4 linked regions of the Homo sapiens genome follow. The protein of the gene in region 3 purifies or fractionates together with the protein of the main gene of each other region. This does not show direct contact. Each region holds a gene or a part of one and is shown on either strand. Other genes may lie near its edges.

Evidence for each region. The genes of interacting proteins can lie anywhere in the genome.
Region 1: the proteins of UBLCP1 (region 3) and PSMD14 purify together in Homo sapiens (affinity purification with mass spectrometry; 2 studies listed by BioGRID and IntAct, with this or other methods). This does not show direct contact.
Region 2: the proteins of UBLCP1 (region 3) and SNRNP27 purify together in Homo sapiens (co-immunoprecipitation; one large-scale study listed by IntAct). This does not show direct contact.
Region 4: the proteins of UBLCP1 (region 3) and PEX7 purify together in Homo sapiens (co-immunoprecipitation; one large-scale study listed by IntAct). This does not show direct contact.

The regions. Positions count from the first base shown.
Region 1 is NC_000002.12:161,367,425-161,370,924, forward strand, and holds part of PSMD14 (26S proteasome non-ATPase regulatory subunit 14), read left to right. Parts: intron 1-53; coding exon 54-125; intron 126-359; coding exon 360-479; intron 480-2,682; coding exon 2,683-2,753; intron 2,754-3,500. UniProt on the Homo sapiens protein: Component of the 26S proteasome, a multiprotein complex involved in the ATP-dependent degradation of ubiquitinated proteins.
Region 2 is NC_000002.12:69,896,956-69,900,455, forward strand, and holds part of SNRNP27 (U4/U6.U5 small nuclear ribonucleoprotein 27 kDa protein), read left to right. Parts: intron 1-421; coding exon 422-501; intron 502-3,500. UniProt on the Homo sapiens protein: May play a role in mRNA splicing.
Region 3 is NC_000005.10:159,273,290-159,276,789, reverse strand, and holds part of UBLCP1 (ubiquitin-like domain-containing CTD phosphatase 1), read right to left. Parts: intron 2,206-3,500; coding exon 2,168-2,205; intron 1,643-2,167; coding exon 1,544-1,642; intron 1-1,543. UniProt on the Homo sapiens protein: Dephosphorylates 26S nuclear proteasomes, thereby decreasing their proteolytic activity. Recruited to the 19S regulatory particle of the 26S proteasome through its interaction with 19S component PSMD2/RPN1.
Region 4 is NC_000006.12:136,909,592-136,912,012, reverse strand, and holds part of PEX7 (peroxisomal biogenesis factor 7), read right to left. Parts: intron 1-2,421. UniProt on the Homo sapiens protein: Receptor required for the peroxisomal import of proteins containing a C-terminal PTS2-type peroxisomal targeting signal. Specifically binds to cargo proteins containing a PTS2 peroxisomal targeting signal in the cytosol.

The DNA of each region.
Region 1 (3,500 bases), on a different chromosome or scaffold from region 3:
AAACTCATAAACTCTGTGTTTGTTTTAATAATAATTGATGTATTTGTTTCTAGGGGCCACCTACAGATGCTCCTGCAGTGGACACAGCAGAACAAGTCTATATCTCTTCCCTGGCACTGTTAAAAGTAGGTAATGAATGTAGTTACTTGCTTTAGAGAACTCTGTTGCTTTCACTGTATCTTTTACTTTGGAATATTTGTCACCTTAATCCTCTCAGACATAAATAAGCTATTGTTTTAGGTACATTTATAAAAGGAGTTTTTATTTTCACTGGAACAAAATTTGGTTTTTGTTTTATAAAGAAGAACCAGAGACCTCAACGAAATTTGCTTTGTGTCCACATCTCTTCCTTTCTACAGATGTTAAAACATGGCCGTGCTGGAGTTCCAATGGAAGTTATGGGTTTGATGCTTGGAGAATTTGTTGATGATTATACCGTCAGAGTGATTGATGTGTTTGCTATGCCACAGTCAGGAACAGTGAGTACTTTTATGGTTGCCTGCTGCAAGTAAATGTGTTTCTTTTCATTTTTCTTTTCCTATGCAAACTAACTCTCATCATATTACATTTTCTCTTTCCAGTAGGAAAAATTAATCATAAGTTTGATAGAAATTTTTAGATTGTATTGAATTAAATCATTAATCTTTAAAACGCAGCATAACTTCTTATAGGTCTACAAACTGAATGATGCTAATGCTAAATTTCTTTTCTCAGTCCTTCGGCTTAAACTGGTGTAAAATACTGGATTTAAAAGTTACTTACCCTATAATAGCAGAGTGTTAGTTTGATTTTGAACCAAGTGTTCAAAAGATTTGAGATTCTCTTAATTTAGATTTTCAACTCACATATACTGGTTCTTATGTCTTGTTCCCATTGTTTTGAAATATGTCATTTAAAAAATGTTCTATATATGGTGATGAATGACTTTTTAAGCTTTTCTTATTTAAAATGTTAAGTTAAAGCAAAACAAAACAATAGCAAACCTGAATATTTTTTTCCCAGGCATGGTATTTTGTTTATATGCACCGTACTCCATACAAATTACCTGTATAGAATACATTATTCTTTCTAGAGATGTTTGTTTTGTTTTGCCTTTTTGTTTGATGCATTAGACTTGTGTTGATAGATGTGCATTTTGACTGAAAGAAAATAGCCAAAAAACAATAACCATTCCATCTACCTTCCAAAAAAAGCACATATATCCTTCTCACCTGTTTGCTTAGAAAAATATGCATGTATTTTTCCAAGCGATATTTCTTCTTTGCTAGGCAATATTTCTCTTACTGAGCCTTGTAAAAGAAGGATTAAAGAAATTGTTGTTATAAAGCTGTTAGTTCTATTCGAAGTTCTGTAAGTTTACTTTGATAAGGTAGATGCTGGAGAACAAATTACAATTTTAAGTACTGTAATATATATAGTATGTATATTAAAAATAAGCATTTAAAATAGAATATTTGCTACAGAATGCAATATATTTAAAATAATGTAAAGTTTTCTCTAAATAGATGAATTTGTTGAGGTAAACTAATTTGGATCTACTGATTTTATCCATCTTGATATCCATTATATTTATTTTATACATTTGGAAATAGAGAAACACTCTACATGTTAACCAAAGGTTTAGATTTAAATCTTAGACTATTTATTACTTGTATCTGTCTTTTTATATTAGGCTACATGAAACACATAAAACTAACTTATATATGTTATGGGTACTTATGTAGATACCCATTATAATACATTGTTCTTAGGCTTTAATATCATTACTTCCATGTAAATGCTTGTTTGACAATATAAAATAAAAGATTTTGATCCCTATATTCACTCTAATTCTATTTTCTAGTGTCATAGAATTAGAAAGTTTTTCTTCTGACCCCAGAGTCAGTAAACTTTTTCTATAAAGACATATGTCTCTGTTGCATATTCTTCTTCTTTTTTAAGACAGTCCTTTTAAAGTATATATATGAAAAGAAAGAAAAAAACCGAAAACATTCTTAGCCTATAAGCAGCAGATTGCATACCCCTGTTCTTGAGGATGTACTCTCTGTTGGAATTCAATATGCATACTGTTTGTTTTGGTGGGAAGGAAGTGCTTATGTTAACTAGTTTCTTTAAGTACATTAGATTTAGATTCCTGAGGTTAGAAGAAAGCCTTGGGAGCTATAAAGACAGTACTCTATCGCCAGAGAGATGATCTGAACCTTTTAATTCTTCCTGTTCAAATATCTTATTTTGGTTGAACTAGCAAAATAATGCTGTATGTAAGAGACTTGAGGCTGTTTCATTATGATAGCTGAATATTTGTAGAACTTTGGATGAGGCTCATTTTAGTCATCAGTTATGATAGGATGGCATTAGGAAGTATGCTTGCCTAAATAGGTCTAACCAATAGTTATGGTTGGTTCAATTATTTCGTATTTCTGGTAAACATATACACAGCAATGGCCATATACTCTTAAAGAATCCTGAAAGTGGGCTTAACTCGATCGCCAACAGCAGTTTGGTAGTTGGCAATTTTAGAAGCTTGATTGGTATGAGGTTTATAATTGAATGACTTGAGTAGGTATCAAATGTAGGTATCAAAACCTATAAAATGATTTTGGCAACCCCAAATAATATACATAGGGAAGCTTTTTTTCCAAATTTACAAAAATTAATAATTTTTCTTTCTTTCTAAATCAGGGTGTCAGTGTGGAGGCAGTTGATCCAGTGTTCCAAGCTAAAATGTTGGATATGTTGAAGCAGACAGGAAGGTAAGCATTTTAAATGATCAGTTAAAGAAATAATGGGAAATATTTATAGAAACATACCTCAAAGTTATAGATGTTTATCAATGTCATTTCTAGAAAAAGTGGTTATGTAATTGACATAAAAGTATCTGTAAATATCAGTGCCATGCACCACCTGTCTAGTATATCTTCCCTTTAGAACCAGAGAAATTTGCCCATCAGAGAACTGCCTCATGTTAAAATTCTTGACTGTCACATAGTAAGCTTGGGCTGTAGCTTCCCTCTGTTTAGCATATGGAGTTACTGTCTAGTCACTTATAATTGAAAGAGCTTGTATGTTCCATGTATTTGAGAGTTGCAACTGAATGAGATTATGAATATTTAATTATGTTTGTAGGCATAGTTTTAAAGACAGAGAAAGTATAATCCAAATATTCTAAAGTTTTTTCCTCAGACCAAATCTCTCAATAGTTGTCATTCTCTTGCTCAAATTCTTCTGCTGTGGAAACAACTTCAAAATTAATGTTAGCAAAAGGCTCAGCAGCTGAGCAGAACAGTGCAAATTGGTTTTTGACTGAGTTCCTAGTTCTACTGCTGGTTTAATTGATATTTAATCCTTTCACAACAGTGGATCCTGGTGTCCATTGTTAAAAATGTACTCTGTGCCTGGAAAATCCAACTCCCAGAGCTAAGGAGTTAAAGAGTAGATATTTACTTGAATGCTGAAAGGGTAAAAACTGGCTCTGAGAAACTGTGGTAACAAGGTGAAAA
Region 2 (3,500 bases), on a different chromosome or scaffold from region 3:
GAACCACCGTGCCCAGCCTGAGATTTTGTTTTAATTGCACCCTAGCAAGTTGCTGGTTATCTATGGTGCTCCTGATATAGAACGATAGTTAAAAACATGAGAATATTCTATTTTGGAAGTGTCTTCAGAACTATATAGTGTCATGCCTGATATTAAAGGTAGTCCTTAATATGAAACCCAGGTTTTTTTTTAAAAGGTAATCCTGTCTAAAGGCTTCAAGGAGAGGACTTTTTTTTTGTACCATAAGTTACATTCTGTCCAAATGTAAGAGGAATTTTTTCATTAGACTCATCTTCAGCTAATTGTTTTGTGTGTTCTCTGCTAGTGAGGTGGAATGACTATTAATCTGTTACCACCTCTCTTTTTATTTATGTATATATTTGAAATGATAGAGAGGTCACAAAATTATTCTTTTTTGCAGAGGAAGACTTAGAGGGCAAAACAGAGGAAGAAATAGAAATGATGAAGTTAATGGGATTTGCCTCCTTTGACTCCACAAAAGTAAGTAAAACGTGCAACATTCTCATTTGAATTAATATGTTATGACTGTCCTATCTTTCCATGTTCTTTTCCATTTATACAAATTTATTTGGTTATAAGACAATAACTATCTGTTTGAAGGGCTTTGAGAATACAAAGGAGGAAACAGTGAACTGCCATTGGAATTCAGGGAGTGGTTGCCAGGGACGATGTTTGAATTAGATTTTAAAGGACAAGTAGAAGTGATCAGACAAAGAAGAGGAAGAAGATTATTTCAGGTAGAGGGAAGAGCTCATGAAAATGCCATGTAGGTGTAAAGGAGCATAGTGTATTGTGGGAATTTCAGATTCGACCAGGGATAAAGGGGTGCTGATGGGCTAGTGACTTAGGCTAGAAATAGAGGTAGGAGGCAAATCACAGAGGGCTTTTGATGCCCTTAGTCATGCTAAGGAATTCAGAGTTTATTCTTTTGGTGTTGAGGAGAGGAAGTAGTGATTTTTAAATAAGGGAGTGGCATGGTTATATGTGTGTTTTGGAATAATGACTCTGGGGGCAGCATGGAGGACAGATGGGAGGTGGGTTAGATTGAAGGCAGGGAGAACTGCTGATTTGTGCAAGTGAAAGATGATAAAGGCCTGAACTGAGTTGAGAATGATTCAGGAGCTGGGGGAAGTGGGAGTGAGTAGTTAGTAATGCCTCTCAGGTGTCAGGCTGGGACCCTGAGTGATACAGTTAACCCAGAACAGAGTTTCTGGAAGGGGAACTGCTGGGAAATGGAAGAACAAAATCCAGCTGCCAGATAGAGATGACATTGGGCAGCTGCATACTTGTCTCATAGCTTAGAAGTGGGGTGGATAGGGGAGGGAATGCTGTCTAGCCTTCATAATAGCAGAGAGATGAGGGAAGAGGAAAAAGAGGGAGGGATTATATAGAGGAGGGAGAGCATAGAGCGAGAGATGGGGGAAGAGAGAGATGGGTATAGAGAGAGGAAATGAAGAGAGGAGAGGGGATGGAGAGAGGGAGGGTGTGTGGAAAGAAAAACATATTTTTTAAAATCTCTTTTCTAGAATTTTAAGTCTTTCCATTTAGTTTTGCAAATGGAAATAGAGATGTTTGAGAAAAAGTTGTCAAAAATAATCCACTTTCCCAAGTCTTGTATTCCATTGAGTTGCTAATGGAATGGGGTAATCTCAGTGGCTGTAAGTTTCTTTCTAACTAATGTGACTGTGTAGGGCTCACATGTTTTAAAATGACAGTGTGTAACTTAGGAGTACTGAGGCATGACTGTTTTGAGGTGAGAAATTAAGAACAAGCTCTTGTTCTTGCAATGGTTATGTGAGCTCTGTTTTGGAATTTAATGAAGTTTATTTATCAGCTTTTTTCCCTTGAATGCCCTAAATTCTTATTTATTTTCCAAAGACTATTTTATAAATGAAAGTTTATTAAGATATATGTTGGGTGAAATGTAAGTTTATTAAGATATATGTTGGGTGAATTAAAATATGTCAAAAGTAAAGCAACTATAGTTTTATTGTCTTTAGAAGAATGGGGAGGGAACTTTTTCCCCAAAGAAAATGGAATTATTTTCTTTGTTTTTTGGTTTTCCTGTTGCTGGATGTTAGGTTTAAAGTTCCTGAAAGTCAGATCTAAGGGTGGTGCCACCCATCACTTAAATGTAGTCAGTGAAGAAGATGTTTGCTTATAAAGGAAAACTTAGGTGAAAAGTCATAGATCTTAAAAAAATTATGGAGTACCATCACACTAATTGATGTCAGTTTTTTAAAATGACATCTACAAGGATGTCAATTTAGTTTATATGCAGTTGGCTTCATGGCTATCAGTTATAACGTCAGCTCATTTGTGTTTTTAAGTAATGTGTGTCTTGTGATGTTTCATCATTGATCTATTGTGGGACCTCTTCATATGCCAGTATAGTCACCCATTTTCCTTTCTATTTGATTGTATTTTCATTTTTTTATTTGTATTATTTTTTATTTTAATTTTATTTTTTCGAGACAGAGTCTCGCTCTGTTGTCCAGGCTGGAGTGCAGCGGCGCAATCTCGGCTCACTGCTACCTCCGCCTCCTGGGTTCAACCGATTCTCCTGCCTTGGCCTCCCAAGTTGCTGGGATTACAGGCGCCTGCCACCACGCCTGGCTAATTTTCGTATTTTTAGTAGAGATGGGGTTTCGCCATATTGGCCAGGCTGGTCTCGAACTCTTGGCCTGAAGGGATCCACCTGCCTTGGCCTCCCAAAGTGCTAGGATTACAGGCGTGAGACATTGCGCCCGGCCTCATTTTTTAGTTTTTTAGAGACAGGGTCTTGTTTTGCCACCCATACTGGAGTACAGTGGTATGATCATGGCTCACTGCAGCCTGACCTCCTGGGCTGAAGCAATTTCCCTGCCTTAGCCTCTGGAGTAGCTGAGAGTAGGCACATGCCGCCACGCCAGGATAATGTTTTTATTTTTTGCAGAGATAGGGTCTTGCTGTGCTGCCTAGATTGGTCTTGAACTCATGGCCTCAAGAAATCCTCCTGCCTCAGTCCATTTTTTTTTTTTTATTTTTGAAGAGACAGAGTCTTCCTATGTTGTCCAGGCTGTACTCAAACTCCTTGGCTCAAGAAATCCTCTTGCCCCAGCCTCCCAAGTAGCTGGGACTGTAGCCTCACAGCAATGTGCTTGGCTTTTCCCTTTCATCTTATTAGATTGGTGGAAAAGTAATTACAGTTTTTGCCATTGAAAATAATGGCTAAAACTGCAATTACTTCAATAACATTTTTCTAGATGGTTTCAAAGTTTGGTTTTGTTTATTAATGGATAATTTTCTATGCCAGCATGTAAATAAATGAGGATAGGGCTAATAATATGCAATTCTGCAAATAGTTTCCAGAAATCAGTAAACCTTTAGGAATCGAACTTTGTAAAAAGGTTATCATCATTTACTTTTTTGTGCCCAAGACCAGTCTTTCTAAGTCATGCTTACTTCCTATTATAGGGAGTTCAAAATCATATACCTCA
Region 3 (3,500 bases):
TTGTTAAATTAAGGGTAATCCTGAACCAAACAAAGGTTAAGAACTATTTTCTAACGGCTTACAACAGTGTTCTCTAAAATACTTCTTTCACTTAAATGTGTCATGAAAATTTCTAAATCATTACATATCCTACTACATCAAATGACGAGCTACAGTCCCTTATATGGGTAGCAGTAATTTATATATCCAATGCCCTATTGCTGGATATTGAGGATTATTTTTATTCCTTTAATTTTTCACTGTTATAAAACATGTTTAACATTTCCCTAAGTAATTTTTAATGTTAAGATTTTGTAAATGTATTATTTTACTTTAGTATATAGTAAGTTATCTTTTTCTCGATACATGCAGTATTTCCTTTATAGAACAAGTCCCCATGCCCTTAAATCATTCTATTTATGGTTTTGATAATTTTAATACTGTCTCCCCTAAGGTTTCCTCGTATCCTAAGTTCTCCTCAATTCCTATTAGTTTGGGTGCTTTTATTTTACTTTATTTTGTTGAGACAGAATCTTGCTCTGTCACCCAGGCTGGAGTGCAGTGGCTCAATCTTAGCTCACTGCAACCACCGCCCCCTGGGTTTGAGCAATTCTCCTGCCTCAGCCTCCTGAGTAGCTGGGATTACAGGCATGCATTATCCAGCCCAGCTAACAGTTTGGGTGCTTTCAAATGATATGGACTGTGTCTCACTCATCTCTTTATTCCCAACAGTGCCTATCACAGGGCCTTCCAGACAGTAGATACTTAATAGTATGAGTAGTTACTTGATGAGTAAAATAACTGGTTAGCCAAACCCTTTTCTCTGATTGTTCTTGTTGCTATTCTTCAGCATCATCCCAAAGTACATGCATCATGATGCATCTGCTTTTATTACCAGTTTCAAACAGGGCAGGGTGAGTGTTTTCGCTTGTTTCTAGTATCTTCCTTGATAATATTCAGTATTTTTCTCACCTACTCTGCCCAGTAACATTGTGCTGTCATCAACACAGGTCAATTACCCACAATCACAAGTTCCTTTCTTGACAGTCCTACTTCAAGATCCCTAATTTTATCATTAAAATTCAAATCTTTTAACCTTGGCTGGGCACAGTGGCTCACGCCCATAATCCCAGCACTTTGGGAGGCCGAGGCAGGCGGATCACGAGGTCAGGAGATCGAGACCATCCTGGCTAACAACAGTGAAACTCCGTCTCTACTGAAAATACGAAAAAATTAGCCGGGCGTGGTGGCGGGTGCCTGTAGTCCCAGCTACTCAGGAGGCTGAGGCAGGAGAATGGCGTGAACCTGGGAGGCGGAGCTTGCGTGAGCGAGATTGCACCACTGCACTCCAGCCTGGGCGGCACAATGAGACTCCATCTCAAAAAAAAAAAAAAAAAAAAAAAAAAATCTTTTAACCTTAAATACATTTTCCTATGTCAAAACTCAACCACTTTATTATTCACTCAGATGAATCTCTACACTATTTACTCCATAGGTATAAACATAAAAAGTACACTGGAAAATAACCATGGTGTCATTAAATAGAAATAAAATGACTTCTTACGTCTATTAATCCTCTCCTTGGAGTATGTACTGTTATCATAGCAGCACTATCCAACATGAAAGTAATCTTATAATTTGCATTTGTGCTCACTCCCAGCTCCTATAAACACAAATATTTGTGAGGTTAAAACATAGTAGTGTGGAAAATTTCAGATTTTCTGAATATTCTAGCTGCAATTTCTCATAATGCCAACTTTCTACACCACTGGCCACTACATCTTGCTAAACAACTAGGAAGTATTTTAGTTTCACTTAGCCAAGTCAATAAATGGTAAACCAAGGAAAATAGAAATAGATTACTTCCTAATTTACCATTTTAGGAGAATACTGACTCTTTAAGTATTGCACACTAGAGCAAAAGAAGGAAAATAAAGTATTATTGTAAAATGAGGAAGAATGTGGGGGAGGGGACAAGCTTAGTTATACTTTTTCTTAAAAAAGACTTAGGGATTCAGTACAATCCACTTATTAAACACACTTTAAAAACACCTCTACTCCCAATAATGGCATTTATCTATCTACTAAGTGCCCTCCAGTAAGAATAAAATTAATTCAGTTCTAGAACTTTTAACAAGACAAATGCAGTTTGAAAATATTTTTAAATGGATTGCTTTCTAACACTTACTTTCATTTTAGCTTCAATCCACTTCATATTTGTTGCAGCTAAAACACGAGGAATGATAATACAATACATATGAAAAGCTTGAATTTCTTTAAAAAAAATCTGTATAAGTAAGTTTTCTAAGCAAAACTAAAAGTTTAAATGCATCAGAATTAACAGTCCCTAGCATACTTATGGTAATTTTCTTTTAAATATTGATAAAAGTAAACTTACTGCAGTGTGTCTTCAAGACAGAATAAATTTTAAACAACTTTTATCTGTAAGATACAGGTAATCCATGCTCAAAAGAACTCTGAACCTAGGAAATTTATAAATCAAGACCTAAACTCTCTTTTTAAATCAGCCCTGACACTCTATCAATTCCAAACTTAAACTTGGGTGCCTGGATCACTTTTTTCCATGTTCCTACTTCTAGGCAATGCACAGGTATACATAGTGTCAATATAAGCATATTGTTATGTGTCAAAAGTTTATGTTGAAAACCAGCTAGTCAGGTTCAGTGAAAATCTGCATTTTGTCAGTCTCAGCAAATTAAAGCTCACTGAGTCTAGCAGCTTCTAACAAGAAATGAGACAAATTCATGAAGTATACCTGCATCATGTATCTGCTCATTGTCAGACATTAACCAGCTTTGAGATCATTAATACTAAAATTAAATCCTCATCTTTATGTGCTCTCCTGGTTTACTGGACTAAACTATACAGGTATAACCAAGTAAAATGTTTAAAAAGAGAAAAAGCAATTTAATTATTTGAAGTGTGTGTGTGTGTGTGTGTGTGTGTGTGTGTGTGATTTTTAAAAGCAAAAGAGGAACCTGAGTTCTCAAAATAAAAAATCTTCAGCATGCACACATACAAAAAAACAGAAGAATCACCTTACACGTACAAAACTGGTCAGTTGAGCTAAAATTTTAAAGACTATTGTATCTCCAATGAAAATAATCATAAGATAGAAAAAAATTTTAATCCGGTACTTACTTTGTATCTGTAATTATCAGACGAAAAACAAAAAGACCCACAGCTAATAAAAAGTTTCTAATTATTAAGTAACTATATGTCAGACATAGTACTAGTTGCTATATTGATACTTCTATTCTTACAACTAACCTGTAATATGTATTTAGATATCTTCATTTCTCAAGTGAGGGAACTAAGGCTCAGAAAGATTAAGTGACCTGTCCAGTGTCACACAGTAAGAACAGAGCCAGAATTAAAATCCTAGTCTATTTAGCTCCAAAGTGAAGTACTCTTTTCAATGAACTACCACAAAATATCACAGTTTATAAAAATAATTTAAATATACTATTGTAAAAGGTTCTCAAATTTTATAAGTCTAG
Region 4 (2,421 bases), on a different chromosome or scaffold from region 3:
AATGACAATGAGATACCACCATATATTCACATTATGGCTAAAATTAAAGATTGACAACACCAAATGTCAGCAGGGATGTGGAACAGCTGTGATCACATACATTGCTGGTAGGGAAGGTATATGGTACCACCATTTTGGAAAACAATTTGGCCGTTTCTTACCAAGTTAAACACATACCTATCTTTTGACCCAGTAATTCCACTCCCAGATATTTGTCCAAGAAAAATGAAAACATATGTTTGCAAAACAATGTAGACACGAATGTTCATAGCAACTTCATTCACGATAGCAAAAAATCGAAAACAAGGCTGGGCAAAGTGGTTCATACCTGTAATCCCAGCATTTTAGGAGGCTGAGGCAGATGGATCACCTCAGGTCAGGAGTTTGAGACCAGCCTGGGCACCATGGTGAAACCCCACCTCTACCTAAAATACATAAAATGAGCCAGGTGTGGTGGTGTGCACCTGTAATCCCAGCTACTAGGGAGGCTGAGGTGGGAGAATCGCTTCAACCTGGGAGGCAGAGGTTGCAGTGAGCCGAGATCATGCCACTGCACTCCAGCCTAGGCAACAGAGTGAGACTCTGTCTAAAAAAAAAGGAAAACAACCAAAATACCCACTAACAAAAGAATCGGTAACAAATTGTAGTAAATTCATACAACAGCATGTGCTCAGCAAAACAAAGGGAGGAATTGCTAACAGGCTCAGTACCACGGGTGAAGCTCACAGGTAAGAGGCCAGAAACAAGTGAGGACATACAGAAGAGTTCCTTATAGAATTCTAAGACAGGCAAAACTCATCTAAGGTAAACAAACAAACAAACAAAAAGTCAGAACAATGTTACTCTTCTCACCTGGAGGGAAGGGTGGGGATAGGGGAGATTGGAAAGGGGTAAAAAGGAAACTGGGGGCTTTCCCAGTTTCCAATAACTGGGATGATGTGAATTTCACAGACGTATCTATTTGTCAAAAATGTATATCTAAGATTTGTAAATTTCAATATATGTGAATTATACCTAAAAATAGTAAAAATAATGTTAGCGATAACTAAACGATGTGTGAGAGTACAGGAATAAATAAAATAAGAATGTTGATAGTTGTTCAAGCTAAGTAATGAAGTTCGTTATCTGATTCTGTTACTTTGTATGTTTTCAAAATTTTCCACAATTTAAAAAAAAGAAGAAAAGAAACAAGGTAGGCAGTAAAATGAAAGATGAAGTAGCAAGAGAGTGCTTTTGACCAAAAGTATTTGCACTCCATTTCCCAGCCTTTCATGCTTATTACAAAGGCTGAAAATTACACAAGAGAAACCTCGTTTTGACTAATGTAATTTCTTGGCTATCACTAATTTTGAATAGTGATAGCCAATCATTCACTACCAATATTCTGAGATCAGAATCCAAGCTACAGAGAGCATTATAGACTTTTTAGTCAAACTTTTAAATTTAAAAACCTCACTCTTCAAGATCTGGTTGTTCCCATTTCATTTCTCATTGCACCGGGCTCACACCTCAAATCCAAGCATGCTGCTTATGCCTCTTCGCTCTTGTTCCTTTACTGATCGCTTCCCTTTAATAACTCCTCTTCTCCCTCCCTTTCTGTCTGCTCCTCTGTCCCCTTTGCCTTGCTCTGCCAGAGATGTCTCTTTTTTAAAAAATCAGTTTAGGTATCATCTCCTCTATGAAGTCATTCATTGTACCCATAATACTTGATTGTACTTATTTTCCCAACTGAAGACAAAGAGTTGTCTTCAGCTCTTTGAGGGCATGGACCATGTCTTATTAGAACATAACTCAATGAATATTGGCTCAACAAATTAATTTCATAGATTACAATTTCAGAGGTTAACTCTGTCCTCATGTTCACAATAGAGTAGCAGAGCTACAGCCAGAACCTAAACCTGTTGAATGTATCCACTAAAACAGTGCCTCATAGAAAAGGCAAACTGAAAACCATTATTTGCCTAATCTTGCAGTTTTCAGTTTTTATACCATAGGACACAAAGATCATTATGTTAAATTACCCCTGTCTCATCTATGCCTATTTTTTTCAAGTGCTGGGCCTTCCCACATGTTAAGCATCCGCTACTGGAGAGAAGAGAATCAGAGAAATAAGACTTAGGTTTCTAGTGCAAGGTATCTATAAATTATGTTTCTGAAACCTTATTCGGCACTCTCCAATCCAGCTTCTTATTTATTCAGGACTTATAATAACTACCAAATGTCAAGGCCACTGATTCAGCAAATGTTCATAAATCTATACTTAATTGGATTAAGATAGATCTAAAACTGCAATGATATAGAATTATGAATAGATTAATTCAAATTGATGAAAATAGTATTCCTCTATTTGTTAATTAAGCCCTATCTGGTTCTACAAATTTAAGCAAGCTAACAATAAAGAAAATAATAATAAGGTAAGAA